Homo sapiens: one gene and its partners. The protein of the gene in region 3 binds, or shares a complex with, the protein of the main gene of each other region. Each region holds a gene or a part of one and is shown on either strand. Other genes may lie near its edges. The genes, in order: DR1, KAT2A, KAT14 and YEATS2.

Region 1 (7,924 bases), on a different chromosome or scaffold from region 3:
TCAGAAAGTTAGGAAGTGTTGGAGTCTATATTTAAACTTAGGTATTTTGACCCAAAAGCCTGTACTGTTTCTAACATACCATGCTGATGCTCTAGCCTCCATTTTATATGCTTAAACTTATTATGGGGCTTTTAAATAGAATATGTATTATCCTTGCCAGGGCAAAATATAAAGAAATAATTGACTGCCTGCTATATCTGTCTTCACCTTTCTATCCCTATTATCTGTTTTTTTATTCCTCTTTTTTGTCTCCCTTGTTTCTTACCCTGACTTATGTATGAAGATCTCTAGTATTTCTTTACTATTGTGAGGATGACCAGCGGAGAGGTAATATTATAGCAGTTGCCTAGTACTTCTTCCCTAGAGCACTGAAGTTCTAAATATGAAAGAGTGGATAAGTAAATATATCTTTTTTATCACTTTCATTTTGTTTCATTTTTTAGACTTTAAATATTAACACAATGACAGCCTCATTTGAAGCTAGCAGCAAATATTTGGAAGGAGGGAACCTTTAATACATCAAGATTAAAGTTAACTTTAAATTATAAATGAGTCATTTTAATATGTGGGAGTGAGAATCTTAAAACATAATGAAAACCTCCAAAAGAAAAGTGAATTAGGAAATACATGCCTGCTTACCTGTCTTTCACACCCCAATTTTAGAAGAAAAATACTTGGGATGGATTGAGTAGGGGGCAAGAGAGAAAAAAATATATTACAGTAAATATCACTGAAAAATGTTCAATTTGTGGAAATGAATACAAATAAAATTTTATCAATCAACTTTTTTTTTTTTTTAAAGAGACAGGATCTCACCATGTTGCCCAGGCTGGAGCACAGTGGCTATTGACAGGCTCGATCAGGCACACTTCAGCCTAGAACTCCTGGGCTCAAGGGATCCTCCTGCTTCAGCCTCATGAGTAGCTGGGACTATAGATGTGCACTAGTGAGCCCAGCTCAACAGTTAGTTTTAAAGGCATAGAAATGTTTTTATGTTCAGAGAAAAGTATCAGCGCTGATACAGGGCCGTGGTAGCTAAAAGTCAATTAAATTTGAAATGTAACTAGTACACAGCTTTGCAGACCATTGAATAGACTACCAAATCAAGCACCTTTGCAGTAAAACCTTTGTAGAGACTTGAAATTATTTGAATTTTTTCCATGTCACAAAATTATACCAACTTGTAGTTGATTAGACCACAAAATATAGGTATGCTTATGTTGGTTGAATTTATGTATTTGATTTGCCCTGCAATTTTCTTATGAACTCTTACAATTTTTTTTTTTTTTTTGAGATGGAGTCTTGCTCTGTTGCCCAGGCTGGAGTGCAGTGGTGCTATCTCGGCTCATTGCAACCTCCGCCTCCCGGGTTCAAGCGATTCTCCTGCCTCAGCTTCCCAAGTAGCTGGGATTACAGGCATGCACCACCATGCCTGGCTAATTTTTGTATTTTTAGTAGAAACAGGGTTGCATCCTGCTGGCCAGGCTAGTCTCAAACTCCCAACCTCAGGCGATCCGCCCACCTTGGCCTCCCACAGTGCTGGGATTACAGGCATGAGCCACCGCGCCCGGCCTTAAAATGTTTTTAGCGAAGCTCTGTTAGTTGGTTTTGAACTCTGGATATTCCTGCCGTAAAAGTAAATATGCTATTGTGTTAGAATCAACTATTTTTCCTATTTCTTTACAAAAATGGATGACAGTCATTATTAGGGAGAATGGATGGTTTCTAATTTCCTAAGCAAAATGAAGTTTTTGTTTACTGTAAAAGTTGTCTTATCCTTGTTTTTTCTAATATCTATAGTCTTTTCCTTACTTATTTCTTCCTCTTTGCCTTTAACCATATACGGGTCTTCTGCATTTCCTTGTATCCCCCAAACCCTTTCATCTTTTGCTATAATGATCTGTGTTACCCACCAAGCAAGGTGGCACCTTCCTGTAGTCCCAGTTACTCGGGAGATGGAGGCAGGACAATCCCTTGAGGCTAGGAGTTCAAGGTTGCAGTGCATAACAACTATGCCTGTAAATAGCCACTGCACTTTAGTCTGGACAACATAGCAAGACCCCATCTCTAAAATAAATAAATAAATAAATAAATAATGATCAGTGCTACCATTTTTTGAAAATGTACAATCACTTATTCCTCAAATTTAACTTCTGTCCTACCACAGAGGCATTTAATCACCAAATTCAGTAATTTTTTTTCCTTTCAATTCTTACTCATCTGTTTTTTTAAAAATAACATTTAATGTAGACCTCTTCCTTTATTAGTCTCTGATACTATGGTTACTTGGATAGCTTTCCCCCAAGGTAATAGCTTTTCTTCTTCCACTTCACTACTGCCACCTACACCAGCACCACCCTACTCCTGCCCTTCAGTCAACAAATTTCAAGTCAGAATTCAATTAACATGTCCCTACTGTATGTAAGACATATGTGGTACTATAGATATAAAAAAAAATGAAGAATATATCATTATGAGACTGACTACTTGGATGAGGAAGATAACTATAATATGAGGCTGACCACTTATGAGAAAGAGATTCTGGCTGGGCATAGTGGCTCACACCTGTAATCATAGCACTTTAGGAGGCCCAGGTGGGAGAATCACTTGAGCCCAGGAGTTTGAGACCAACCTGGGCAATATAGTGAGACCCTCTCTCTACAAAAATAGAAAGAAAGAGGGAAGAAGGAAAGAGAAAGAAATCCCAAGTATGGAAACATTACATCAAATTTTAGGGGTACAGGAGTATGCCAACTAGTAAGCAATTATCTTAGCTCCAGACCCACCTTTCTATGCTCTGCTTTGTGACTGGACCTAGTACTCTGCAAGCCACATGTTTCTTTGCTAGCTGACTCTCCATTAGACTCTGTTGCCATATGGGGCTATCGTGGGAGATTGCATGGATGGAGGAAGAGAAAGGGTTTTCTCTTACTTTCTCTTGTCTTTCAGTTCCTTTGAACAACCCAGCAACACTTCTTCACCCTGGTTGCATCAGTTTTCCTGTAGCAGAGACTGAACGCGGTTTGCATTTTCTCTAATACACCACCAGCCTGAACCCGCACCCCATCCCCCCACTCTGGCAGTGTGGATCCCAACCCTTGGGGCCCTCCTCCAAGCGCAGATATATTAGTACTAGCTTATCTATGCCCATTCTTCCGAGGCCTGAGTTTCAGTTCCATGAAGTGGTTTCTTAAGCTTCTAAATTTTAAAAATTCCAGCATTTTCCTTTATTCCCTCAGTTTTAGGGTTGGTGGCTGCTTCCTGTAGCTGCTACTTTCATGACATCTTCATGTTCTCTTCCTGCCTTTTCAGCTCCCTAATAACAACTTTATACTTGTTTAACAATTCTTCGTATTAAATTTTTTCCATTCCAGTAACTCATGTGACATCTATCTCTTGATTATACACTGACTGATGCCAGGAGGAGAAAATAGTATTTCAGTTTGACTTGAAGGAAGGGTAGAATTTCAGTAAGTGGCAGGAAATTTCACATAGGATGAGTGTCAGCATGAGTAAAGGTAGCAAAGATGAGGAAGTATGGTGTATATTTGGGAAACATTTTGTGTTCTAGGCTTTTTTGAAGCACAAAGTACATGTTACAAAAAAAGACTATAGAGAGGTTGGGGTAGACACTAATTTGGAAGACCTTGAACTCTAGGCTAGGAAATTTGGATTTGATTGATAACAAATGATTTTTTTTAAAAAAATGAAATAGTGACCTGATTAGAATTTATATCTAGAAATGTTTGGATAATAAAGTCATGACAGATTATTCAGAAGAGTGAGGATTGTACATGGTAAAATCTTAAATGTTACTGGTTATGCTGGGCATCACTGTTTTCCTGTAGCATGTTCATTCAGAAAATACTGAGGGCCTTTATGTTAGGAATGCAACAAAGAATATGGAAACAATCTCTATTCTCAAGTGTGGTGGAAAAAAAGGATATAAACTTAGATAATTCTAGAACAAAGTGGATGGATATGGGAATGCATAGGGAATTATGGTATATTAAATAGAGCATAAAATATGGCTTGGAAAGGTCAAGAAAGACTAGCTGATTTGCATTTCAGATGATGACTAGGAATTAGCTATGCATAAAGGGGAGGGTCTGAGTTGGACTTAAAGAACAATTCCAAGAACAGACAGAGAAGGAGAAAAGGATTGTTTTGGCAGAGTCTAATGGGAAATTGTAAGACCTTTTTAAGAACAGGTTCATTTTTTCCCTTCTTGGTGTGGTTTTTCTGCAAACAGATGAAATTAAATTGTGAAGGAGCCTTAGCTGTTTCATAGGTAATTAATAATGTATGCATCCTGGTTTCTTAAATCCTGTGGTTGTTTTTAATAGAGGATATATCAGATGAATGGATTTTAAGTAGTATCTTTTTACTAGTGTGTATACGGGAAGGATATGTATATTTGTATGTGTGTATATGCAAATGTGTGTACTTACAGAGAGGGAATGAGGGACACAGAGAGATAGGCATATAGTAGGTTAGGGAATTGTAATAGAAACTCAGAAAGAAATAATGGGGTAGCTACTGCATACATGTACAGTACTTCTTTCCTATGAGGTAGAGGTACTATACTAGAGAACTTTTAAACCATATAAATAAATTTTAGATTGAAAAATGTTTGTATCAAAGTTGTAATATGAGGGTACAGAAGAGTCAAGTGAAATGAAAGGAAAAGAAGAGGGAAAGAGCCAGAGGGAATATTGTGGGTTTTTCACAATATTGGTTCCACTTTTTCAACTTCTTCAGTTGAATCAAAGGTCATAAATTACGTGAAATAAAACAGGGCCATTTATAAGAGATCCAAGTTTGAGAAATTTCTTAGACCTGTGTAGTTAGAAAAAAGCAATCTCTAATTATATTTACCTATAGAGTTTATGTTCTCCAGATGTGTGACAATTACATAGTACTTGGACAGTATCCAAGTATGATAATAAACTGTCTGAAATTGGCCTAATCTACATTTAACCAAAGTGTATATATTGTGGGTTTGTAAAAAATTGTTATTTTTTTTTATGTTTTGGGTGTTTAGGCTAGACAGCAACAAGCAGAATTGGCCCAACAGGAATGGCTTCAAATGCAGCAAGCTGCCCAACAAGCCCAGCTTGCTGCTGCCTCAGCCAGTGCATCTAATCAGGCGGGATCTTCTCAGGATGAAGAAGATGATGATGATATCTGAAATTCACCAGCTGAGTTTCTATTTCTTCTATAAATGTTTTTCCCTGCACAACAAAAACAGTGAAAGAAATGCTTATCTGTAATTTTGTATGCATCTTGGTGGACTTGTCATTGGTATTCTAGGGATGTCTGCTATTAAGTTTCATCTATTGTGTGCTATACATGTAAAAACTGTCTCTTTGAACTATTGAAAATTTAAGGTTCAGTATAATATCAATTTTGAATTTTTAATGGTGTTTATGAAATTTTAGATAGCAGCGAGTCCTTCGTTTGATCAATAAACAGTGTTACAGATAACTTCAAGTTTATAAAAATACAGTGAAATTTCTACAAAGCTCTAAATCTGCATTTGCATTTCCTCTGCCCTTTTAACTAAACTAAAACTTGTGAATTTTAAATTATTAAGGGGGGGGTGCTGTGTGAATCAGTAGACATTGGATTGGGTTGGTGAAAGAGTTCAGTTCTGTAGTATCTGAATTTGTCTTTTAAAATGAGTACATATATAGGCAATAAATATATATGCTCAGATCAATATACTTGTTTAGAAAAACTTCAAGACATTCAAAAACTAGGAAGGAGTATGTTTAATAGTATTTGTATAAATTTGGTGGTTATGTTTTTTTATTTTGTTTCTGTTTTGTGTAGAGGTAAAAACTATAGTTTTATTACAGCATAATTCATTTTGAGCTCCACTATGACATTTCAAAGACTGCCCAGTTTGGAAGTCTGTCATGATTTTTACTCTTTCACTCCAATTCAGTAATTGTTGATAGTATTACTTACCTAGTCCATCCATACTCATATTATTCAAATATATAGGTGGTACTTTTGAAACAATTACATTGGTTCTCTTGGTTTAACTGAGGTTTATGAATATTCAAACCTTTGCTGGGGGAAAGAAATGAAAGTTAATGAGCATGCTTGCTATGAGAGAGGGATTTTTAATTTAACTTGTAGTTATAGTTTACTTATTGTTTTTAGAATTACTTTTACATTTTCCCAACTAGATGGCCTAGAGTCCAACATTACCTTTTGAGATGACATTATTGTCTCCATAATTGAGTGATAGCTTTAAAAAAAAGATTAGTTTTGCTTAAGAAGTTATGTTACAACTGATCAGCCCTATATGAATTAACTGATCAGCCCTATATGAAACATAAGTTGTGTTATAACTTATCAGCCGTATATGGAACATAAATAGTTTCTACCTGCTTGTTAGAGAAGCTTTAATTTGGTTCTAATAAATACAGTATGGTAGTGTTTATAGGAATCCAGGATGTTGAAGAAATGGCATAATGTCTATATTTTGGAAACAGAAAGGAAAAGTCACTTAAGATAGTATTAAGTAATTAAATTCCTATGTCAGTTGCCAAATCTTTTAAACTTATGTATTCACCAAGCCCAAAAATAGATTGTGGCTCCCAGGATTCCAATTTTAATTGGAGAGCTAAGTAAGTAAAGTTTTATAACTGTTAGGTTTCTTAATGATCATATTTTGCAGTTTTAGTAAAAGGGAAATATTGTTATACATTTATTAAATATACTTCCCCCATGAAGTGAAAAGGTTAATTTTGCTGAATGTTTTAAGTTGAAGTTACTTCATGGATGTCATACCCATGAAGTGCATTTGGATGAGATAGAAGAAATTGTTTTTTAAAAAGTTTAAGTACCAAAGGTAGTCTAGTCTAGAACGATAAGTTAATACGTGTTGGCTTTTCTAATTTGTACTGTAACATCCTTATACTTTCTATTTTAAGTATATCTGTTTCTTAAGTAAACAACTTAGATATTTTCCACACCTTTTTTTTTTTTTCTGATGCAGAGTTCAGGTTAATATTTTACTGCATCTGATAATGTATTATACGTTTGAAGCCTAGTGACTTTTCATTTTGACATTCTTGTGATTTCATATGCTGTATTCTTCAAGCAATAAAATTGTGATGTGTTTTATAAATGGTTTTTATATTTAATGTTCTATAGAGAGATTTCTATTATTACCATTTTTACTATTTTCAAGAATCTTAGGCCCAAAAGACATTTTGGTCATTTGGTATGTAGTACCTGCCTTTTGTTTTTGTTTACTGTTATTTCAAAAAATGTGGTTTTACTTGTATTTTTATAATTTACAGTCCTAAGATCGAGGCATAACAAAGCTTACTTATGCAATATTTTATTTTTAGGTTTTTTCTTTTTTTTTTTTTTTTTTTTTTTTTTTTAGCATTTAAGAGTCACTATTATGTTTTGCCAGTTAAAATTTTTTAAATCTTTTGAAGAGAGAAACAAAATCTTCAGCGTTCTTGAGAAATAAAATTATTGTTCAGTAAGTATTTTTCCATCCCCTTGAATATATGTTATATATTCTTTTTCGGCAGATTATCAGATTAGTAAGTGTTTAAAAGGCATCAGTTTTTAAAACTGCATATACCACACACACACAAAACAGTACACAAATAAAGGTTTTCACAAATTAAACAAACTCACATACTAGTCTTCAGATCAAAACACAGAGCATTATGTGTACCCCAGAAGCCCTCCTCTTTCCCCATCTTAACACTGTCTTCTTTCTTGCTGAAAGTTACTATCCTGACTTCTAAAATCATAGATTAGTTTTGCCTGTTTTTTATTTTATGTAAATGTAATCATACATAATACACTTTTTTTCATTCATCATTTTTGTGAATATTTTAGTTTCTTGTTGCCACTGTAACAAACTACCACAAACTTAGTGACTTAA
Region 2 (6,681 bases), on a different chromosome or scaffold from region 3:
CTAGTCTGGGGATGGCAGGTACATAGCCCAAGCTAACGCTGCCCCCACCCGACCCTACGCCCCAGTAGATGTTACTAATTGTTTCCCATGGGGGCCTGGACACAGCCTCAGACTCCTTCCCTGCACAACTCTCCAAGAAACCAGACCTTAAGCTTGAAGTGAAACCAATTTCTACTCCTGTTCTGGTCTTTTCTGTACCATTTTCTTCTGTTCGGCCACACCTTTTAAAATCTAGGCCATAACTCCCCTGTTCAAAAAACCCTGACTGACTAATCCTGGCTCTCTAGTGCCCCCTGCCATCAGGTGGGAACAAGAGATGGCAAGGTGGGGTGGAGTCTGAGCCCATTTTGATACTGAGGGCAGTGAGGGGGCTCAGGGTGACAAGGTGCCCTGCCTGGCCACACAGCACAGGATGACATCAGCTCAGACCTGTCTCCCTGTGCCACACAGCGTGGTGAAACTGAGCCTGTTTGATCTCTGTCCTGGATGTGTCCTGTCCTCTTACCTTCAATTGGAGGCTCCCAGAAGACAGGGGCTGTCCCCTCTCTCAGGTCCCCAGTTCCCTAAGAGCAGGGTCTGTCTCTGACCAGCCTCCAGTCCCTCTGCTGCCTGGCCCAGGCTGCACCCTGGAGAACAGAGTTGTGGGACAGACTGTGTCCTCCCTACAGATTCCTGTCCATGCTGGAGGAGGAGATCTATGGGGCAAACTCTCCAATCTGGGAGTCAGGCTTCACCATGCCACCCTCAGAGGGGACACAGCTGGTTCCCCGGCCAGGTATGTGCCATGGTACGCTCTGTAGGGTGTCTGGCCTGCCTGGCTGAGCTAAGCCTCCTGGGTGGAAGAGAGCTCACCTGGGCCGGAGGCCCTGGATCCCACTGAGGGACCTGCCACCGGCTTCAGCCCCCCCAGTCCCTGCCTTCTCTCTCTCTCTCCTCAGCTTCAGCACCCCCGTCCCTGACTCTCTCTCTCCTCAGCTTCAGCCCCCGTCCCTGACTTCTCTCTCTCTCTCCTCAGCTTCAGCCCCCCATCCCTGACGTCTCTCTCTCTCCTCAGCTTCAGTCAGTGCAGCGGTTGTTCCCAGCACCCCCATCTTCAGCCCCAGCATGGGTGGGGGCAGCAACAGCTCCCTGAGTCTGGATTCTGCAGGGGCCGAGCCTATGCCAGGTGGATACTTGACCCCTGACCTCTGACCCTCATTCACTCCTTCCCAAACCTTTTTTACTGATCCTGAGCAACCTTGCCTGCCTCCCCAATAGGCGAGAAGAGGACGCTCCCAGAGAACCTGACCCTGGAGGATGCCAAGCGGCTCCGTGTGATGGGTGACATCCCCATGGAGCTGGTCAATGAGGTCATGCTGACCATCACTGACCCTGCTGCCATGCTGGGGCCTGAGGTGGGCAGCCCGACCTGCTGACCAGTTGGGGGACCCCCACCAACCTGAGACCCCGGCTCACCACCCCTCTTCTGTGCCCAGACGAGCCTGCTTTCGGCCAATGCGGCCCGGGATGAGACAGCCCGCCTGGAGGAGCGCCGCGGCATCATCGAGTTCCATGTCATCGGCAACTCACTGACGCCCAAGGCCAACCGGCGGGTGTTGCTGTGGCTCGTGGGGCTGCAGAATGTCTTTTCCCACCAGCTGCCGCGCATGCCTAAGGAGTATATCGCCCGCCTCGTCTTTGACCCGTGCGTCCCCCAGAGAGCCCCTCCCCCAGGGCAGCACACCCAGTTCCCTTCCTCCTCGGCCTCTTCACTCCTCAAAATTGGGGATCCCCTGCTCCCCACTTCTGAGGTTCATCCTTTGAGCATTCTTACTTCTCACTGCCCAACCCTGACTACAGCTCAGACTTCCAGGGCTCTGGGGACCTGAAGGGGACAGTCAGGGGCTATGACATGCCCCCCTCTCTCTTAGGAAGCACAAGACTCTGGCCTTGATCAAGGATGGGCGGGTCATCGGTGGCATCTGCTTCCGCATGTTTCCCACCCAGGGCTTCACGGAGATTGTCTTCTGTGCTGTCACCTCGAATGAGCAGGTCAAGGTGAGCGCGGCTCCCCGGCCCCAGCCCCAGTCCACGGCCCACTCCTGAGTTTGGGCCAGTTCGGAGCAGCAGGATGTGTGGCATGCAGCAGCCCGTTGCTCTTCTCTTAGTTAGCGGCCCGTTCCTCACATCCCCACAAGGTGGCAGCCGTACTTTGATAACTGTGGATTAGGAAACCACCTGTTGACAGACGGAGCCCAAGCAGCAGCCACACTTTGGTGGACCTGTGGACTTGGGTTTTCTGCATCACAAGAACATTTACATACATGGGGGAATTAATTACTTTACTTTTTATTTTTTATTTATTTTTTTGAAAGAGGGTCTCTCTCACCCAGGCCGCAGTGCAGAGGCATGATCAGGGCTCACTGCAGCCTCAACCTCCCAGGTTCAAGTGATACTCCTGCCTCGGCCTCCCAAGTAGCTGGGACCACAGGCATGCACCACTACGTCTGGCTAACTTTTGTATTTTAGTAGAGACAGGGTTTCACCATGTTGCAGGGTTTCACCCAGGCTGGTCTCTAACTCCTGACCTTAAGTGATTCACCCACCTCGGCCTCCCAAAGTGCTGGGATTACAGGCATGAGCCACCGCGCCCAGCCAAACTAATCATTATTACAGTAGCCCTATGCTGATAGTTTTGGCTTCTGTCCTTTGTTACAACAGACCCACTCGTAGGGTCTCTGGCTCTGTGTGTCGCATACCTCAGATCTGTGTGGTGCCTCATTGGCCCTGACGTGTGGGAGGCATTGCTCCTGCTGCTCAGACCTCTGGTGACTCCCTCTCCCGCTTCTCCCAACTCTGAGGCCCAGGGACTGGGAATCAGTGGCCTGTGTTGGGTTTGGACCCGGCCCTGCCACGGCTGGCAGCCTGACCTTGAACACATTTCCTAACGTAGCTGAGTTTCGGTTTTCTCTTCTGTAAAATAAAGGTGGTAATACTCGCCTCTGGGGTTAATTTGAGAATCGGTCTGTAAAACAGGAAGCACTGCACCTAGCCCAGAGTGAGCTTAGAAAGCCCGCACCCTTCACTTTCTCCCCATAAGCTCCCCTTCCTCTGTCAGCTGCCTTTCTTCCTCTTTGCCTGGATGCTCTCGCTCTCTCTACCTCCTTTCCAATCTACCCGCTCTTCTCTGGTCTCTGAGACCTCTCCAGCACCAGGCCCATCCTCAGCTCCTGGTGAGTCCTGCTTCCCTCCCCCGCAGGGTTATGGGACCCACCTGATGAACCACCTGAAGGAGTATCACATCAAGCACAACATTCTCTACTTCCTCACCTACGCCGACGAGTACGCCATCGGCTACTTCAAAAAGCAGGTGACCCGTAGCCTCGTCCCACACCGGTCCTTTGCCTGGAGGCTGGGGTAATTCTGTCCAGCCCCTCTGTGGATGGAGTAGGAGTCCCTTTGCGTCCCCTACTTCACCTGACACCTGCCAGGAGAGTCTCCATGCCTATCTTCTTTCCTCTGCTGCCATTGCCCCAGGGGAGAATGAGGGCCTGTGGGGCCAGTAGAGCAGGCCGGAGGAACTGGGGGTCAGTAGAGCATCCTGGAGGAACTAGGGGGCCAGTAAAGCAGGCCGGAGGAACTGGGGGGGGCACTAGAGCAGGCTGGAGGAACTGGGGGGCTAGTAGAGCAGGCTGGAGGAACTGGGGGGCCAGTAGAGCAAGCTGGAGGAACTGGGGGCCAAGAGCAGGCTGGAGGAACTGGGGGGCCAGTAGAGGAGGCTGGAGGAACTGGGGGGCCAGTAGAGGAGGCTAGAGGAACTGGGGGGCCAGTAGAGCAGGCTGGAGGAACTGGGGGACTCTTCGGGATGAGTCAGGAGTGGGCAGCTGACCTGGGACCTTTCCAGGGACAGTTTGAACCCTCACAGTGCCCCAGGAGGAGGTTCAGGAGCAGGAGGTGGCAAGTGGCACGTGCTACTCCTCTGGTGCTCCCAGGTGAGGGACGACAGAAGTTGGGAAATACTTATGGATGGACTGGGTCATGACCATCCACCCCCCAGGGTTTCTCCAAGGACATCAAGGTGCCCAAGAGCCGCTACCTGGGCTACATCAAGGACTACGAGGGAGCGACGCTGATGGAGTGTGAGCTGAATCCCCGCATCCCCTACACGGAGCTGTCCCACATCATCAAGAAGCAGAAAGAGGTGGTGTGCACACATGCGCATCTGTGGGATTTTTCATGAATGGGCATGCAGAGGGCGAGCACACGTGTGTAGACCTGTTCTACGTCTACATGCATATATGTGTGTGAGTGAGGAGGGGCAGGCCAGGATCTTGGCTCTTGCTCTGCTCCCTTGGGGAAGTTATGAGGGGAGGTGCTGGATTAGGTGGCGTTGCAGCTGGGTGGGTGCAGCCAGTGGCTCCGACTGTGGCCCTGGGAGGGGTTGTTGTTGGGGCTGGAGTTGGCCCCTCAGTCCCTTCCTTCCCTCAGATCATCAAGAAGCTGATTGAGCGCAAACAGGCCCAGATCCGCAAGGTCTACCCGGGGCTCAGCTGCTTCAAGGAGGGCGTGAGGCAGATCCCTGTGGAGAGCGTTCCTGGCATTCGTAAGCAGGGGTCTCAGTTGCAGGGTAGTGGGGGCACGATGCTTGGGGTGTGGACTGGCATTCTTAGAGACATTCTCCCACTTCCCACTTTGCAGGAGAGACAGGCTGGAAGCCATTGGGGAAGGAGAAGGGGTGAGTGTCAAAGGAGCCGGGTTGGGGGTGGGGCAGAGGGACTTGGAGCCTCAGACTTGGTGTCTCTCGCCCCAGGAAGGAGCTGAAGGACCCCGACCAGCTCTACACAACCCTCAAAAACCTGCTGGCCCAAATCAAGGTGGGGAGACCAGGTTTCCTTTCCAGGGCCCCTGCACCAATGGCTGTGGCCTCTTGATGCAGTGTGGGGTGGGTAGTGGTCTCGGGCTGGCGTGGGCGCAGCAGGGCTGTCCCCAGCCCGGCTCTTCTCTCCAGTCTCACCCCAGTGCCTGGCCCTTCATGGAGCCTGTGAAGAAGTCGGAGGCCCCTGACTACTACGAGGTCATCCGCTTCCCCATTGGTGAGGACCTTCCATTCCATCCCCTTCCCTCCTCTTCTGTCCCCACACCTGCTCCTGCCCTCACTGCGCCCTGCAGCCCCAGGGGGCCCACCCTGGTGGACAGCCCTGCCGTGGTCTTCAGCCTCTTAAAGCTGTGCTCCGTCTCCTGCTGCCCCAGACCTGAAGACCATGACTGAGCGGCTGCGAAGCCGCTACTACGTGACCCGGAAGCTCTTTGTGGCCGACCTGCAGCGGGTCATCGCCAACTGTCGCGAGTACAACCCCCCGGACAGCGAGTACTGCCGCTGTGCCAGCGCCCTGGAGAAGTTCTTCTACTTCAAGCTCAAGGAGGGAGGCCTCATTGACAAGTAGGCCCATCTTTGGGCCGCAGCCCTGACCTGGAATGTCTCCACCTCGGATTCTGATCTGATCCTTAGGGGGTGCCCTGGCCCCACGGACCCGACTCAGCTTGAGACACTCCAGCCAAGGGTCCTCCGGACCCGATCCTGCAGCTCTTTCTGGACCTTCAGGCACCCCCAAGCGTGCAGCTCTGTCCCAGCCTTCACTGTGTGTGAGAGGTCTCCTGGGTTGGGGCCCAGCCCCTCTAGAGTAGCTGGTGGCCAGGGATGAACCTTGCCCAGCCGTGGTGGCCCCCAGGCCTGGTCCCCAAGAGCTTTGGAGGCTTGGATTCCTGGGCCTGGCCCAGGTGGCTGTTTCCCTGAGGACCAGAACTGCTCATTTTAGCTTGAGTGATGGCTTCAGGGGTTGGAAGTTCAGCCCAAACTGAAGGGGGCCATGCCTTGTCCAGCACTGTTCTGTCAGTCTCCCCCAGGGGTGGGGGGTATGGGGACCATTCATTCCCTGGCATTAATCCCTTAGAGGGAATAATAAAGCTTTTTATTTCTCTGTGTGATTGTTTCTTTGGTGTAGTCCCAGCCTTAGCAGGCTCACCTTGGCCCCCAGGGACCTCTTGCAAACTGGAGGCTGCTCTCCCCAGCAAGCCTCAGGCCTGGTCCTGTGCTCCTGGGGTGATGGGTCCTACCTGCCTGCAGCCCCCCACCTCTCCCTCCTCCAGGCTGCTCCTGATCCAGATGCCAGGGCAGCAGGGGTCAGAACCTCCTGCCTTCACCTTAACCTGGGTGGATGTGGTTACAACTGACTGCAGAAGGGCCAGAGCGTAGAGGATCCTGTAGCACTGAAAGAGTGCTTCCCTGTTAGCACACGTGGTTCTTTTTCTTGGGGCAGGGATAGGAGATTCGTAAGTCGGCTCAGCTGGCTCCTCCCCTCAGTTTCAGTTTCCATTTCTGATTTCTGCTCTCTGCGCTGAGCACAGCGGCACCAGGCTGAGCTAAGCAGGGCCGCCTTGGGCAGGCCTACGTGGTGGTGCAGGCGAGACCCAGGCTGGGCAAGGCGCAGGTGTAGCCTGTGTTACTCCCACCCCCCCCCACCCCCACCTTTTGGCCACAGCAGGCTTCTGATGAGTTTTGAGGGTGTCCCCCCCCCCACCTCCCTCAAGTGGGGTGGAGTCCTGGGCAAAGGGAGGTCTCTGTACCGACTGCTCTGGCCAGGAGTTGGGATGAGTGGAGGGCCCAGTGGGTCTGAGTCCCCTGCCATTCCCAGAATGGAGCTG
Region 3 (7,924 bases):
TGCTCCAAAACAATTACAATACTAACATCAAAGATCACTGATCACAGACCACCATAAAAGATATAATAATAATGAAAAAGTTGGAAGTAATGCAAAAACTGCCAAAACGTGAGACACAGAGACAGAAAGTAAGCACACACTACTAGAAAAATGGTGCCAACAGACTTGCTCGACATAAGATTGTCACAAACCTTCCATTTGTACAAAATGCAGTATCTGTGAAGTGCAATACAGCAATGTGAATAAAACAAGATATGCCTATAATATGTTTAATATGTTAAGGGCTTAATGGACAAAATACACAATATGCAAGAACAGATGGGCAATTAAAGAGATGAAAACTCTGAAAATGAATCAAAAAGAAATGCTGGAGATAAAAAACACTGTAACCAATATAAAGGTTGCCTTTGATGATGGGCTTATTTGTAGACTGGACACGGCTGAGTAAAGAATCTCTGAACTTGAGGATCTGTCAGTAAAAACTTCCAAAACTGAAAAGCAAAGACAAAAAAGATGAAAAAAAAGAACAAAACAGACTATCCGAGAACTGCGGAAAACTACAAAAGGTGTAATAAACACACAATGGGAATACCAGAAGACAGAAAGGAATAGAAGAAAAATTTGAAGCAATAATGACTGAGAATATCCCCAATTTAATGTCAGACACCAAACCACACATTCAGGAAGGTCAGCGAACACCAAGCAGAATAAATGCCAAGAAGCATATAAAATACCTCTGACCAAAAGAACAGAGTTGTCAAGTAAGACAAATGAGAACAAACACAATTTCTGTGTTTTGGATGTGCTGGAAAATAAAATAATAGAAAAAAGAAAACAAAGCTTTAAAAAGAGAAAATAAAAGACACTTAACATGCACTAATTAAAGATAAAAAACAAAGAGAAAATTCTGAAAGTTTTAGGAGATGGGAGAATAAAACAAGGAGGCCACTTAATTGATAAGAAACAAAAAAAATTTTTTTTTTTTGAGAGAGAGTCTCACCCAATCACCCACGCTGGAGTGCAGTGGCATGATCTCAGCTCACTGTAACCTCTGCCTCTCTGGTTCAAGTGATTCTCAAGCCTCAGCCTCCCAAGCAGCTGGGATTATAGGCATGCGCCACCAGGCCTGGCTAATTTTTTTATTTTTAGTAGAGACGGGGTTTCACCATATTGTCCAGGCTGGTCTCAAATTCCTGGCCTCAAGTGATCTGCCTGCCTCGACCTCCCAAAGTGCTGGGATTACAGGCATGAGCCACTGAGCCCAGTCAAAAATTTCTATTTCTTATCAGTACCGGGGTTCTCAGGAGTGACACTGTATGTAAGATGATAATGAAGTCATAATTTCAAAATATCAATGGAAAAAACTAAAATAACAATTTTATATGACTGCTATCATTTAAATGAAAAAGTGAAATGAAGATATTCTTAGTCGTATAAGTTTTCAAAATTAACCTCAAAAAGCCCATATTTTTAAAGAACTGTTAGAGAAAGCAGTCCAGCAAGAAATTAATCTAGAAAGAAACAATAGGACGAGTGAATAATTTAGTAAAGATTTATGTCATTTAAATAAGCAATACAAAAGAAAAAAAGAGATAAGTGCATGAAAATGTACTTTTTTGTTTGGGGGGACAACCACATGATATTAAAAAAAGAATAAGGAAAAATAAATGTATCTTAAGTTAGGACCTATAAAAAGAATAAAAATAGAATGTATAACTTTCTTTATGGTACAGAATGAACATCACATAAACTATTTTCTCTGATCATAATACAACATTAGAAATCACATCAATTACCAAAACATAGCTTAAAATTCTCATATATCTGAAAACCAAAAAACAACTAAATAACCTTTGGATTAAAGAGGAAATAATGAGAAAAATAACAAAATGCCAAGTACTGATTGGAAATAAAATCACATCATTTCAAAAGTCAAGAATCACAGCTAAAGCAGCACTTATTGAGAAACTTATAGCTACGAATACATTCAAAGAATAAATATAAAACAAGAGTATGGATTGAATAAATGCATTTACAGCCACTCCCTGTGTAAATACATTAAAATTTATACTAAAATTCCAAGTTAAGACTGGGTTAAAACACAAGCATATAAAGCTTTACTACTTCCCAAAATCCCACTAAAACTATAGAAGCTGACTTAATTAGAACAGTAACTGGTAAACAGATGGACAAATAGTAACTGATTTAACACCAAAATCCCAAAGTGGCTTTGGGTAAGCTAAATGAGAACTAACCCAATCTATACTACAGAACCCGCTAAAATCCAGGCAGCAGCCAGCAGATTCCTCTGGAACTGGGACCAAATGGGACAATAAAATAAGGAGCAGGCAAACACCATGTGGAAAGCAGTATGATCCCCAGATCCTTCCACTCCCTGTTGCTGGGTGGCTGCCCTCCCCCAGAAGCCAGGAGGTCTGATCTCTAGAGAACTAACAGGGGATCCAGCTGGAGGGCTGAGGTGTGAGTACCTGACAAGCTGAATGCTAAGGTCCCTCTTCCCCAACTTGGCAACCAGCATCCTGAGCCCAGAAGATTATTCCCCAGGGACTCTGACTAGATTCAAAGAAAAAACCTAAAGGAAGTGCAGTGGTCCTCAACAGAGGTCTCACCTAGACAATGTGGCTGTGTATGGAATTCCAGGTTCAACCTCACTTAATGAGGGTCTTTTCAGTATGTTGGTCTCAAATTTTACTTCCCATGCAGCTTTTCTCAGGAAGTCATTAAGAACAAGGGAATAAACCTATAACAAGGTAAAGATGGGCCACAGGAAACAGGAGATCAAATACAGAGGAGGGCAAAAGAATCTCCAGAGAGGGGAGATCCCAACACCCCTGCTGAGTTTCACAACAAAGGGTGAACAAGTGTGACCCAAGGGGCAGACATAGTGTAGAAAGTAAAAAGTTTCCTCTTCAAAGTTTTCCTTCTTGTTAAAGAATAAATCATAAGTGTTAGAAATAACAGTTTCTTTTAAAGACTAACTTTCTTCAAGTCTCCTTGCCTTGTGCTAATAACTCTTTGTTAAGCCCTATCCTCTGTAACCGTTGGACATGCTCACAGGCACGTTCCAGCCCACAGTCTACGCCCCTTCCTTATTTGGAAATGTTATTGCTTCCTTAAACCTTTTGTAAGCAACTTCTTTGTTCTTCCCTGCACTTACCTATTTAGGAAAGTTTTAGGCTATTAGCAAATCGGGTATCAGTTTAAGATTGTGAGGTCCCGCTCCAGCCAGTGGATGCAGGACACAGCAGTAAGGACGACCCAAGTGCGTAAGGGATAAATATGTCTGCTTTTCCTGTGTTCAAGTGTGCTCTCACCTTTGTTCCATCTGCAACTGAGCACCCTTTCTACAGAAAGAAAAGATGGCCTTGCTGAGATACCTTTTGTCTCTGTGCTGACTTTTCTTCGCAGCACCGATTATCTATTTCTAACAATTTTGGTATTTCTAACACATATTGAGGCTATCATCCTTAAGTCCTTGCTGCCACTGACCATCTTTTAAACCTATGGCGTCGTGGCCCAGAATCTTATCTACGCTCAGCTTGTCTTCACCATGTACAGGTGAGCCTCCTGTACACCACCCATGCCCACCCCAAAGACCAGCTGATGATGCTCACTCCACAAATAACTGCTTTGACCTTCTGCAAGCTGGAAGGAAGCTGTCAGCTCAGGCAGGAAATACAGAGGATCCCACTTCCTCTGCCCAGATTTCTGCCGCATCTCTGGTATACATCACAGCCCTGGCTGATGCATACGCTATGGTGAGCCTCATGTTTCCCAGGACTCCCTAGTGACCTTGGCCAGTGACTACCTCAGAAGGGGTTCATGGAAGCCGAAGCCAGAACATCACTGTAAGTATTAGTTTCCCAGGGCTGTAGGAACAAAGCACCACAAACTGGGTGGCTTAAAACAACAGGAATTTATTGTCTCACAGTTCTAGAGGCCAAATGTCAGAAGTCACAGTGTGGGCAGGGCTATGCTCTCTGGGGTACGCACTAGGGGAGAATTTGTTCTGTGCCCTTCTCTTAGCTCCTGGTGCTGCCGGCAATCCTTGGTGGTCTTGGCTAATTATATTTGCAAAGGGCCTATTTCCAGATAAGGCTGCATTCATAGGTACCAGGGTTGGGACTTCAACATATGCTTAAGGGGGACACAATTCAGTCCACAACAATGACCCAGAATGACTATTTAGCTTATCTTCTCCAGGAAACTTCATCTAATAGTGGCAATTTACTTACACAGCTAGATTTATGCTTGCTACTCAGTATTTTTTTAAACGAAAAGTATATCATTTAGAGACATACACATTTAAAAAGCAAAAGAATAATTAACACTGTAAGTCAAAGTGGCTTCCTCTGAGGGGAACAGAAAGTACACAGGAGACTTCTAAGGTGTTTACAACACTCTTTATCCAGGAGATGAATACATGGGCATTTATTTTACTAATATCTAAATTATACCATATTTCTATGCTGCCTTCTATCTGTATGACACATCTTACAATTTAAAAAATTAAGTATAGGCAGTAAACAGACAGGCCCACAAGAATAAGAACAAAGAACAGGTGAATATTGGCCAGGCGCAATGGCTCATGCCTGTAATCCCAGCACTTTGGGAGGCTGAGGCGATCACTCGAGCCCAGGAGTTTGAGATCAGTCTGGGCAAGATAGTAGGACCCTGTCTCTACTAAAAATAAAAATTAAAAAAAAAATTAGCTGAGTGTGGTAGTGTGTGCCTATAGTACCAGCTACTTGGGAAGCTGAGGTGGGAGAATTGCTTGAGCCTGAGAGTTCGGGGCTGCAATGAGCTGTGGTTGTGCCACTACATTCCAACCTGCGTGACAGAGAGAGACCATGTCTCAAAAAAAAAAAAAAAAAGAACAAGAACAAGTGAATAGATGACTAACAAAAGCATATGAACAAGCAGCAAATGACTTAACAGACCAAAGAAAGCCAATACCTAAGCCAGTGGTGAAGCTAAGCAGGGTGATTTACAAAACACAGCCTCAGGGAAGTGTAGTCACCTAAGGCATCAGGCTTAGAGCCTGGGGGGTATGACTATGGATTGTGAGGCTCTTTAAGAGGTTAAAGGCTCCAATTATACCCCTATAGTAATTATACTGCCCACATCTAGGAAATGATCTTTCCCTCCACGGGCAGAAGACTGGAGAGGCTCAAGAGGGAGATTCTGGACACAGGAAGCCAAGGGTGGGAGTACTGTACTGAAGACAGGGAGAGTCAGTTTACCTCCTAAACGATGGGCTCCTGGGCCCTCCCGACTTGGCTCCTGGTAGGCAGGCCAGTTAATACTGTGCTTCCCAGGAAAGATGGGAATTAGGAAAAAAAAGAAAAGAGGATCTATCTGGAGTAGGGATCTTGGTAAACTATAGCCCCCAGGCTAAATCCAGTCCACTGCCCATTTTAGTAGATAAAGTTTTACTGGAACACAGCCACACTCATTCACTACGGCTCTCCAATCACAACAGCAGAGTTGAAGAGTTCCGAATGAGATTTTGTGGCCGGCAAAGCCTAAAATAATTACTATCTGGCAGAAATACTTATTTCTTTACAGATAAAGTTTGCCAACTTTTAATCTACAGGGTCCAATATCCAAATAATGGGGAGTTCTAAAATGAGAGAACAGAAAAAATAGAAGATAGGAAATCAAGACTTTTCCATACTCAGGAAAGAAAGTTTCAAATTGAAAGGGCCCACACACCACATGTCCAGCACAAGGAAAGACATAAGCCCTACATACGGCACATCACTGAATAATACCAGAACACCAGCAATGAAGAGCAGATCCCACTAGCTTCCAGAGAAGAGAGAAAAACATGCAGACTCCAAACAGGCAATTCACAAAGAAACAACCAGGAAATTTAACCTCACCTGTAACCAAAGAAATATAAATAAAAAACAAGATTTCACTTTACAGCCAGCCAATTAGCAAAACTTAAAGGCTGGTTAGTGTCAAGTGCTAGCAAAGATAAAGGGAATAAGGCCTCTTGTTCCTCCCAGTGGGAGAGTATATACAGGTAGTTCTAAGTGGAATTAATTGTTCCCAGAAGCATCCACAAAATTTGGGTTCCACCGACCATCCTTTGAGCAACACTGATACCACACTGATCCCTTGGCTGCTATTTCTTCATGTTGTCCTTCGCAGATGTCTACACACCTTCAGATCCTCTGCAACACAGTGTCAGAGACACCGTCATGGCCTCAACAAATTTGTCAAAGCTACGACACAAACCATGCATATCTATCCTCAGAGAGAGAGAGACAAGAGAGACAGATGAAGAAAACTTATAGGTTATGTTTGAATGCCTAAAGGAAAAGAAAAACTCAGATGTATTCAGGTGTACTTACAATGAACAATTCTGAAAAATAAAGCCCAGCGATTTTTGTATTTTTTTCCCTTGCACTTTACTTTTCTCTTCCCAAATTACTCAGGATTTAAAAGGTCACAGCATAACCATGTCCAATGCCTAGTGCTGCCTGCCCCACCTCCACTCCTGCCCCCAAGGGCTTTACAGCAAGTGCTTGCATTCACCTGGTATCGGTCAAGGATTCTGAAGTCCTGACAGGTGGTTCTGTACGTGGCTTGTCCAGCTGGAAGTCTGGAAATTCCTCCTTCTTTGGCTCCATAAATCCCGTCAACTAACAAAAGAGCAGCATTAACAACTTGATCCAAGTCAAAAAGTGGTAATCCCCTATCCCTTTTCGCTTGTCTGACAATCAGTTTGCGTTTCAGTCTCCGAGCTTCCGGAGTCATGGCAACAGCACCGGGACAAGCTTCCAGCCTCTTGAGCAGCAGCTTTTCCTCGTAGATGCTCACGGGAGTATACCTGGGCTCTTTCGGCTTTGTGTCCTTCTCCAGCTGAGGCTTCCTCTTTTCTCTAGCCCTTGTTTGCAAAGATGTGTTTGAATCTGTGTCTTCACTGTCAATATCCATCCTGTCGGGTTTTTCCTCCTCACTCTCTACCTCCTGCTTTATCTGTTCAGGGCCTCTGACCTTCTTTCTGACCCCAACCACTGGCCCAGAAGCTACTGACCCAGCAGGGGGTGGGACGTACTCCATCCCTGGGTCTATGACTCCATCGCCTTCCATCTCATCGTCATCTGTGCAGAGTACAAAACAGTGTCATCAAGACATAGGAAGGAAGAAATGCAGAGCACACAGCCCACGGGGTGAAAACTTGTACATTTATACCATGGCCCATACCCAAAATAAAAGAGCAAAGCAAACAAACTCTTACCATGAAACAAGGCTTGTGGGGGCATCACATCTGGAATCAGATCTGCTTCTGAAAGCAAGCTAGGTGTGGCAGAATGAGAGGCAGGTGTACCAGGGGCAGAGAAATCCAGAGAAGGAGAAGGAGATGGGCTTGTCAGCGGGGTGCGGTCAGAGGAGCTCAAGGAGGAAAAGTCAATCACTTCGCCTTTTTCCAGAATCACATCTGGCCTGCGGCCTCGGCTTATGAATTTTACAGGGGTAGAAGATGTGCTCCTGTCAAGAAAGCCAGCGGCCTCCTTCTGGGCTCTTCTAATGTCTTTTGCTTCCTGAGTTCGAGACCTTTTCTCTTTTAATTCCATGGCAGATTCCACAGGATTCCGACTTGCTCGTTTTCTAAGTCCCTCAACAGTAATGATGGGATCTAAAGTTGGTTTTGAGGCTGCTAAGAAAGAATAAATACAGGCTGAGTATCCCTCATCTGAAATGCTTGGGCACAAGCATGTTTTGGATTTCAGATGTTTTCGGCTTTTGGAATATTTGCATTTTACTTATTGGCTGAGTATCCCAAACCCAGAAATACAAAATCCGAAATGCTGCAAATGAGCATTTCCTTTGAGCGTTATGTCAGTGCTGAAAAAGTTTCAGATTTTGGAGTGTTTTTGATTTTGGATTT
Region 4 (7,924 bases), on a different chromosome or scaffold from region 3:
AACCCGTGAGGCGGAGGTTGCAGTGAGCCGAGATTGCGCCACTTCCTGGGTGACAGAGCGAGACTCCGTCTCAAAAAAAAACAAAAAACAAAAAAACAAAAATTTCCTACTTATCAGTTGAATATGCTTTATCATTTCATTCTACCTTCTAAATAATCTTATTTTAAAATTTAGAAATACTCTAAAATTCCAGTAACATATGTAGAGAATTAAGTAATCAATACCCCCATATCCTCCACCCCAAATTTACTTATTCATGTTTACTTCAGATCTTTTTTCTCCAAATAAAACATTTCTGATAAAGTTGAAGTCCACTTTGTTCTTCCCAGAGGCAACAAGCACTGTCATGGCTTTGATGTGTAGCCTTCCACTCCATGCGCTTATTACATGAATACATAGTCATAGGAAACGTGATGTTGTTTGTGTTTTGAAGGTTTACGTAAAAGATATTCCTACTTACATTTTTCTGCAACTCCCTTTTCGCTTTCTTATTTTTCCAGTCTGTTTACACTAATATATCACTAATATATATAATTCTAGTTCATTTATTTTTAGTATGACCTTTCGTTGTCTGTTTTATGCCACAGTTTGTCCATTCCTCTATCTGTAGACGTTAAGAATGTTGTTGCATGCTGCAGACATTAAGGTTGCTAACAGTTTTTGGTAAAAATAATGCTATGTTGGGCATTGTTGTATATGTTCCCTTGAACGCATGTATGTTTCTCTAGGATATATTCCTAAAAACAATTCCTACTATACGGGGGTATGTGAATTTTCAGTTTTAGCAGATGGGCCAGTGCCTCTCTGGAATGGCTGTCCAAATTTATCTTCCTACCAACAGTGAGCACAAATTCCTATTTTCCCCACAGCCTCTAGTAACTTCTTGGTTTTAAACTCTTTTTCCCCCAATCTGATGGGTGAACAGCACTTCCTATTTTGTCTTTTTTGCCTTAAGAAGGTAGATCATTTGCATTTCTTCCAACCTTGTGGAAGTCTGTTCATCTAGTTTCTGGTGAGAAGTTCTTTTTATGAAATAAGGTGCTGGGAGTGGGAAACACTGCTCCAGTTTGCCATTCATTCAGTGTTTAATTTAACATCCTACTGTTGACTTTGTTTTAAAAACACTCCTGAGTATTTTCTTAAAAGAATTCATTTTACTTTTGGAACTAGATACTTCTAATTTTCATTATTTGGGTACTGGGGTCTTTTTTTTTTTTAATAGTTAAATATTATTCTTGCCTTTTTTTTTTTTTTTTTTTTTTCTTTTCTTAGGGTCTTGCTCTGTCACCCAGGCTGGAGGGCAGTGGTGTGATCACGGCTCAGTGCAGCCTTGAACTCCTAGGCTCAAGGGATCCTCCCCTGCCTCAGCCTCCTGAATAGCTGGGACTACAGATGTGTGCCACTGTACTGGCTAATTTTTTTTTTTTTTTTTTTTTTTTTTTAGACAGAGTCTCACTCTGTCACCCAGGCTGGAGTGCAGTGGCATGATCTTGGCTCACTGCAACCTCCACATCCTAGGTTCAGGGGATTCTCCTACCTCAGCCTCCAGAGTAGCTGGGACTACAGGTGTGTGCCACCATGCCCAGCTAATTTTTGTATTTTTAGTAGAGATTGGATTTCACCATGTTGGCCAGGCTGGTCTCGAACTCCTGACCACAAATGCTCCTCCTGCCTTGGCCTCCCAAAGTGCTGGGATTACAGGCATGAGCCACCACGCCCGGCCAAACTTTTTTCTTTATACTTCTGAATTTCCCAAATTTTCTATTAAAGTAAATTATAAAAAGTAGCTGAGGCAAGACAACAATTGTTAAGCTTCTATTATTGTAATACCCAAGTGTAAGAAATACAGTTGCCGTTCACACCTGTGTAGGTAGCTTTCCTAGATGACTGAATTAGGCTGCATGTATTATGTGCAGGCCTTTGTTTTGCTCTCTGCCAAAACGGTGACTGCTGTTCTAAGAGCTCTCGAAGCACCGTTGGACTCTGCTCTGTTTTGAACAGGTTGTCGGGGTACCAGTTGGGTCTGCTTTACCTTCAACAGTGAAGCAGGCTGTGGCGATCAGTGGTGGCCAGATCCTGGTAGCCAAGGCCAGCTCTTCTGTCTCCAAAGCAGTTGGGCCAAAGCAAGTTGTAACCCAAGGAGTTGCCAAAGCAATTGTGAGTGGAGGTGGAGGAACCATTGTTGCTCAGCCAGTGCAGACCTTAACCAAGGCCCAGGTTACTGCCGCTGGTCCTCAGAAGAGTGGATCCCAGGGTTCAGGTAAAACGGATCATCACTGGGAGCCCTTTCAGCAGAAGCTCTGTCCAAAATTTCCTTTGCTAGTGATTTTATTTGCTATTTGATCTGGTCTAGGAAAGCCTAGTTAGGTTGATGCTGTAAGAAGTGTATTGAAATGTTTGTTCTTTTTTATGGGACATTTTACATAAAGGTCTGTGAGTATTTAGCTTTAAATTTACACACACACACACACACACCCACATACACACACACACACGAACAAATCATTTCTCAGTACTGTGGGGGATTGGTTCCAGGACCCCCTGCTGCAGATAGCAAAATCCACAGATGCTAATCCACAGTCCCCTGTGTAAAATGCTGTACTGTTTACGTATAACCTATGTACATCCTCTGATGTACTTTACTTTATATCATCTCTAGGTTATCTTAATACCTAATAACAATGTAAATAACAATGTAATAACAATGTATATGCTATGTAAATAGTTGTTACACTGTGTTGTTTAAGGAATAATGACAAGAAAAAAGTCTGTACATGTTCAGTACAGATGTACTCATCCTTTTGTCTGCCAAATATATGGATATTTTTTATCTGAGGTAGGTTACATCCATGGATGTGAAATCCACAGATACAGAGGGCCAATGGTACTTGCCAGTTAGGAGCACACATTTGCCCTAACTTTGACTTTAAACAAATGGGGGAAAATATGTAATCCTCCATAGACAGGGTGATTATTTCATTAATCGTCCAAACCACAGTACTTTGGAGAGTAAAAAGAGTCATTATTAATAATTATAGTGGGACAGGTGTAACCTAGAACTGTTCTGGGCAGAACCAGGACGTACGATCATCCTATTATATACAGATATAAAGAGCCTCTGGCAGGCTCTTCTGGTCTATAAATTATTTTTTAATTAGCAAGATATTTAAGAATATCAGTCTTTAAAGCATTGTGCATCTGGGAAACAAACTTTGAATTTATTGCTTGTTAGTGTTCTAAAATAAGAATTTATTGCCTTGTATTTTAATTTTAGAGTGTTGCCCTTAGTTTCAATTTATCTTACAATTTTTTCTCCTTTACCATTTTAGTAATGGCAACGTTGCAGCTACCAGCCACTAATTTGGCCAACTTGGCAAATTTGCCTCCTGGCACTAAACTCTACCTAACTACAAACAGCAAGAACCCTTCAGGAAAAGGAAAACTGCTGCTGATCCCTCAAGGAGCCATCCTGCGAGCTACGAACAATGCTAGTTAGTGAAACCATTGGGTTGAATCATTTGGTTCTTGGTTCTCTATGTGTGTTCATCTTGTCCATCTGAGGGCAGTTCTTACCTGTTTCAGGAAGCATTTCTGTAACTCTGTTGGGTGGTGTAATGGTAGCATTTGCTCAGATGGATTTAACACATACGATAATTTAACTAGAAGTGGGTTTGCTCCTCAGCGTTTGCAATCAGAGATGAATCACTCTGGAGAGAGATGGCTGGTGAGGCTGTTGGGAGAAAGCTGTCTACATGAACCATGAATGAAGTGGTGTCTGAAAATTATCTGGTGATACCTGAGGGAAGATCCATCTACTTATAGAAGCTGGAAGTCTGTTTTTGGGGATAGGTTGGCATAGGATTGGAATCGAGTGTGTCTGTTTGACTTCATTTAGATCAGGGGTCCCCAACCCCTGGGCCGCACAGCAGAAGTTGAGCATGGACGAAGAAGCATTACTGCCTGAGCTCCGCCTCCTGTCAGATCAGCAGTGGCATCAGATTCTCACAGGAGCGCGAACCCTGTTGAGAACTGTGCATGCGAGGGATCTAGGTTGTGTGCTCCTTATGAGAATCTAATGCCTGATGATCTGAGGTGGAACAATTTCTTCCCCAAACCACCCCCCGCCTCCTGTCCCAATTCATGGAAAAGTTGTCTTCCATGAAACTGGTCCCTGGTGCCACAAAGCTTGGGGACAGCTGGTTTGGATGTATTCCTTACTTCTGCTAGGTTTGGAGATGGAAAGAGAAATACAGACTCTACCTAGGTTTGTAAGTCTTAAAGCCCCATGGAAATGAGGCAGTTTATCTGCAGTTAAAGAAACTTTTGCTTTGACATATAGAGAAAAACCGTTTGGGCAGTGTTGAAAAGGATAGGATAAAAGGAAATTATTTCCCTCTGAATCAGAAGTAGAAGGGTACAGCATTCAGGGTCATTGGAAGTTAACCGCCCTTGCCAAAATGCAGTGTGTCAGCTCATCATCCTTGCGTTCATTGACCATGATGTGTCAGTTCCACTCTCACTTGGTGTTTTTTCCTCATACCTAAGCAGTGGTATGTCCAAAAGTTAAATGTGTAAGAAAAGGACAATGTAAATATTTCAGAAGTCATCCAGGGAGCTACTTAGATTCTTGTGATATCCTTGGTGCAAAAATAAACCATTGGGAAGGAAGCTATTCCAATAATCACTGGAATGAAGGTGGAGAAGGAAATTGGAAGTTAGTATTTGTTGAGTGAATATTCATAGTCCAGGTAGTTCAAATGCATTATCTCACCAAAAGAGAAGTAAAAAGACTTCAAGGCTTTGAAGTGGGATTTGAAAGGCAAAGAAGAATGGGGTCCTGGAGTCATTGTAAATGAAGGAAAGTCTTCATTTTTCCTGAGACAGGGAGACAACATCGAGCACTGTAAAGTTACACTAAATTCCAGCAATTCCCTGACATTGAATCAGATGCCCAAAAGTTGGGAAGCACCTAGCTGAGCACATTTAAGTGTTGATTAAAATACTTGGCTAGAGGCTGGGTGCAGTGGCTCACACCTGCAATCCCAGCACTTTGGAGGGCCAAGGCGGGCGGATCATGAGGTCAGGAGATCGAGACCATCCTGTCCAACATGGTGAAACCCCCTCTCTACTAAAAATACAAAATTAGCTGGGCATGGTGGCACACGCCTGTAGTCCCAGCTCCTTGGGAGGCTGAGGCAGGAGAATCGCTTGAACCCGGGAGGCAGAGGTTGCAGTGAGCCAAGATCTTGCCATTGCACTCCAGCCTGGCGACAGAGTGAGACTCCGTCTCAAAAAAATACTTGGCTAGAAAATGTCAGTAGCAAGCCTTCTCTTGATCTCCCACGACCACGTCAAAGTATCTTCATTGTACTCAGAGCCGAAATACAGTCAGTTGTCATGCAGTTGAAAGGAAATAGATTTTGATCTAAAATCTAGGAAGTTCTCCTCACTCTTGTCACAGGGTAGGTAGATTACAGAAAAGACGGAGGAAAATGGGAAAGAAGAAGGAATGGCACTAAAAGGGAAACATCTCTCTGGGCTCATTTGTTTTTTATGCTAAAGCTTTGCTTGATACTTTTTATGATGTTGCTGTCATTCATTGTATTTTTAGATCTCCAGTCTGGCTCAGCTGCCAGTGGTGGGAGTGGTGCCGGAGGAGGAGGAGGAGGAGGAGGAGGAGGCGGCAGTGGCAGCGGTGGAGGCGGCAGCACAGGAGGAGGAGGAGGAACAGCAGGAGGAGGAACTCAAAGTACTGCTGGCCCTGGAGGGATATCTCAGCACCTGACTTACACATCTTACATCCTCAAGCAAACTCCCCAGGTCTGGTTCTCTGTAACTGATATTTTAAATCATTTAGCTATTGGATAACTATGCTTAATTATAATTGATTTACCTTTACGGCTCTGGGATCAGGGTTCAATACTAACACCTTAACCGTGTTATCTATATCTATATCTTGGCCGGGTGTGGTAACTCATGCCTGTAATCCTAGCACTTTGGGAGGCCAAGGTGGGTGGATCGCTTGAGCCCAGGAGTTCGAGACCAACCTGGGCAACATGGCAAAACCCTGTCTCTACTAAAAATACCAAAATTAGCTGGGCGTGGTGGTGCACGTCTACAGTCCCAGCTACTCCGAAGGTTGAGGTGGGAGGATTGCTTGAACCTGGGAGGTTGAGGCTGCAGTGAGCTGAGGTCGCACCACTGCACTCCACCCTGGCTGGGTGACAGAGTGAGACCCTTTCTCAAAAAAAAACTATGTGTTTTTATCTTTTTTGCTTGCTTTGAGAGAAGAGGAAGTAGAGATTGAGAAAGATTTTAGTAACTTATCCAGGATCTTCCTGCCAAGCCAATGGTAGAATTTGGGTTTAAGCCAGGCACGGTGGCTCACGCCTGTAATCCCAGCATTCTGGGAGGCCGAGGCAGGCAGATCACCTGAGGTCAGGAGTTCAAGACCAGCCTGGTCCATGGTGAAACCCTGTCTCTATTAAAAATACAAAAATCAGTCGGGTGTGGTGGTGCATGCCTGTAATCCCAGCTACTTGGAAGGCTGAGGCAGGAGAATCACTTGAACCCGGGAGGCAGAGGTTGCAGTGAGCCAAGATCACTCCATGGTACTCCAGCCTGGGGGAAAAGGGTGAGACTCTGTCTCAAAAAAAAAAAAAAAGGAAAAGAATTTGGGTTTAAACCCAGATCTTCCTGCCTTAAAGATTTCTACTATGCTAATTGCCTCCAAAATCCATGAGGTAATAAACAGTATTAATGTACAGTTGAAAAGTTGCTCATAGAAGGGAGTGATCAAAGAGATGGTATCAAGTTGTAATATTTAGAGTTAAGTTAGATTTGATTAGGAACAGGTTTCCTCCTCGTCTCCTCTTGTCACTGAAGTCTTGGCTCTTTTTGAAGGAAAGTAATAGAATTTTGGTTCCAGATGTTCTTATTGAGAAAGATGATATCAGTCTGAATGATTAAATCCAGTTTTGAGGACTAAGTTGCAAAACATGAGTTTTCAACAGGCTGCTCTGTAACTACAGTGCAAAGTTTGAGAAGTGGGGATAACTAATGGAAGTAACACTTAGAGCACAACTATTCTTTTGAATTATTTTGCCTACATTGCAGAATTAAAGGGGAGAGCGTTGTAGCTTGTAACATGGGACGTTACATGTGATTTAAGGGATCAGAACAGCCCATCTGAATTTAACAAATTACCGATTAGTTCTTTATATTTTTTTCTAACTTAGGGCACATTTTTAGTTGGCCAGCCATCACCCCAGACTTCTGGAAAACAACTCACCACTGGGTCAGTGGTCCAAGGAACACTGGGAGTCAGCACATCTTCTGCACAAGGACAACAAACGCTAAAAGTCATCTCTGGACAGAAAACCACATTGTTTACACAGGTAAATACGCCCATGCACACACCCCAAATATGGGGTGATTATGGCATTTATTTACATATTTACATGTAGTTTCTCTCTTTTCACAAAGAAATTAAGGTTACATAAGAAAATGAACAATAAGGCCAGGAGTGGTCGCTCACGTCTGTAATCCCAGCACTTTGGGAAGCCAAGGTGGGTGGATTGCCTGAGGTCAGGAGTTGGAGACCAGCCTGGCCAACATGGCCAACATAGTGAAACCCCGTCTCTACTAAAAATACAAAAATTAGCCAGGTGCAGTGGTGCGTGCCTATAGTCCCAGCTACTCGGGAGGCTAAGGCAGGAGAATCGCTTGGACCCGGGAGGCGGAGGTTGCAGTGAGCCGAGATCGTGCCATTGCACTCCATCCTGGGCGACAGAGCAAGATTCTGTCTCAAAAAAAAAAAAAAAAAGAAAAAAAAAGAAAAAATGAACAATAAAAAATATAGAAAAACAAAAATGAATCTTGAGGTTTGGGAAAATATAAGTAGAATGAGAAAATTAAGGACCCA

The links.
Region 1: KAT14 (region 3) and DR1 share a complex: the UniProt entries of both Homo sapiens proteins name them as parts of the ADA2A-containing complex.
Region 2: KAT14 (region 3) and KAT2A share a complex: the UniProt entries of both Homo sapiens proteins name them as parts of the ADA2A-containing complex.
Region 4: KAT14 (region 3) and YEATS2 share a complex: the UniProt entries of both Homo sapiens proteins name them as parts of the ADA2A-containing complex.

Annotation. Positions count from the first base shown.
Region 1 is NC_000001.11:93,355,449-93,363,372, forward strand, and holds part of DR1 (protein Dr1), read left to right. Parts: intron 1-5,044; coding exon 5,045-5,191; 3' UTR 5,192-7,924. UniProt on the Homo sapiens protein: The association of the DR1/DRAP1 heterodimer with TBP results in a functional repression of both activated and basal transcription of class II genes.
Region 2 is NC_000017.11:42,112,391-42,119,071, reverse strand, and holds the end of KAT2A (histone acetyltransferase KAT2A), read left to right. Parts: exon of another isoform or gene 1-18; intron 19-668; coding exon 669-775; intron 776-1,054; coding exon 1,055-1,165; intron 1,166-1,257; coding exon 1,258-1,394; intron 1,395-1,475; coding exon 1,476-1,684; intron 1,685-1,910; coding exon 1,911-2,037; intron 2,038-3,238; coding exon 3,239-3,349; intron 3,350-4,036; coding exon 4,037-4,180; coding exon of another isoform or gene 4,181-4,183; intron 4,184-4,467; coding exon 4,468-4,582; intron 4,583-4,677; coding exon 4,678-4,714; intron 4,715-4,789; coding exon 4,790-4,853; intron 4,854-4,987; coding exon 4,988-5,072; intron 5,073-5,229; coding exon 5,230-5,423; 3' UTR 5,424-5,961; downstream 5,962-6,681. UniProt on the Homo sapiens protein: Protein lysine acyltransferase that can act as a acetyltransferase, glutaryltransferase, succinyltransferase or malonyltransferase, depending on the context.
Region 3 is NC_000020.11:18,161,589-18,169,512, reverse strand, and holds part of KAT14 (cysteine-rich protein 2-binding protein), read right to left. Parts: intron 7,694-7,924; coding exon of another isoform or gene 7,691-7,693; coding exon 7,274-7,690; intron 7,137-7,273; coding exon 6,568-7,136; intron 1-6,567. UniProt on the Homo sapiens protein: Component of the ATAC complex, a complex with histone acetyltransferase activity on histones H3 and H4. May function as a scaffold for the ATAC complex to promote ATAC complex stability. Has also weak histone acetyltransferase activity toward histone H4.
Region 4 is NC_000003.12:183,770,304-183,778,227, forward strand, and holds part of YEATS2 (YEATS domain-containing protein 2), read left to right. Parts: intron 1-2,001; coding exon 2,002-2,260; intron 2,261-3,329; coding exon 3,330-3,491; intron 3,492-5,611; coding exon 5,612-5,820; intron 5,821-7,238; coding exon 7,239-7,397; intron 7,398-7,924. UniProt on the Homo sapiens protein: Chromatin reader component of the ATAC complex, a complex with histone acetyltransferase activity on histones H3 and H4. YEATS2 specifically recognizes and binds histone H3 crotonylated at 'Lys-27' (H3K27cr).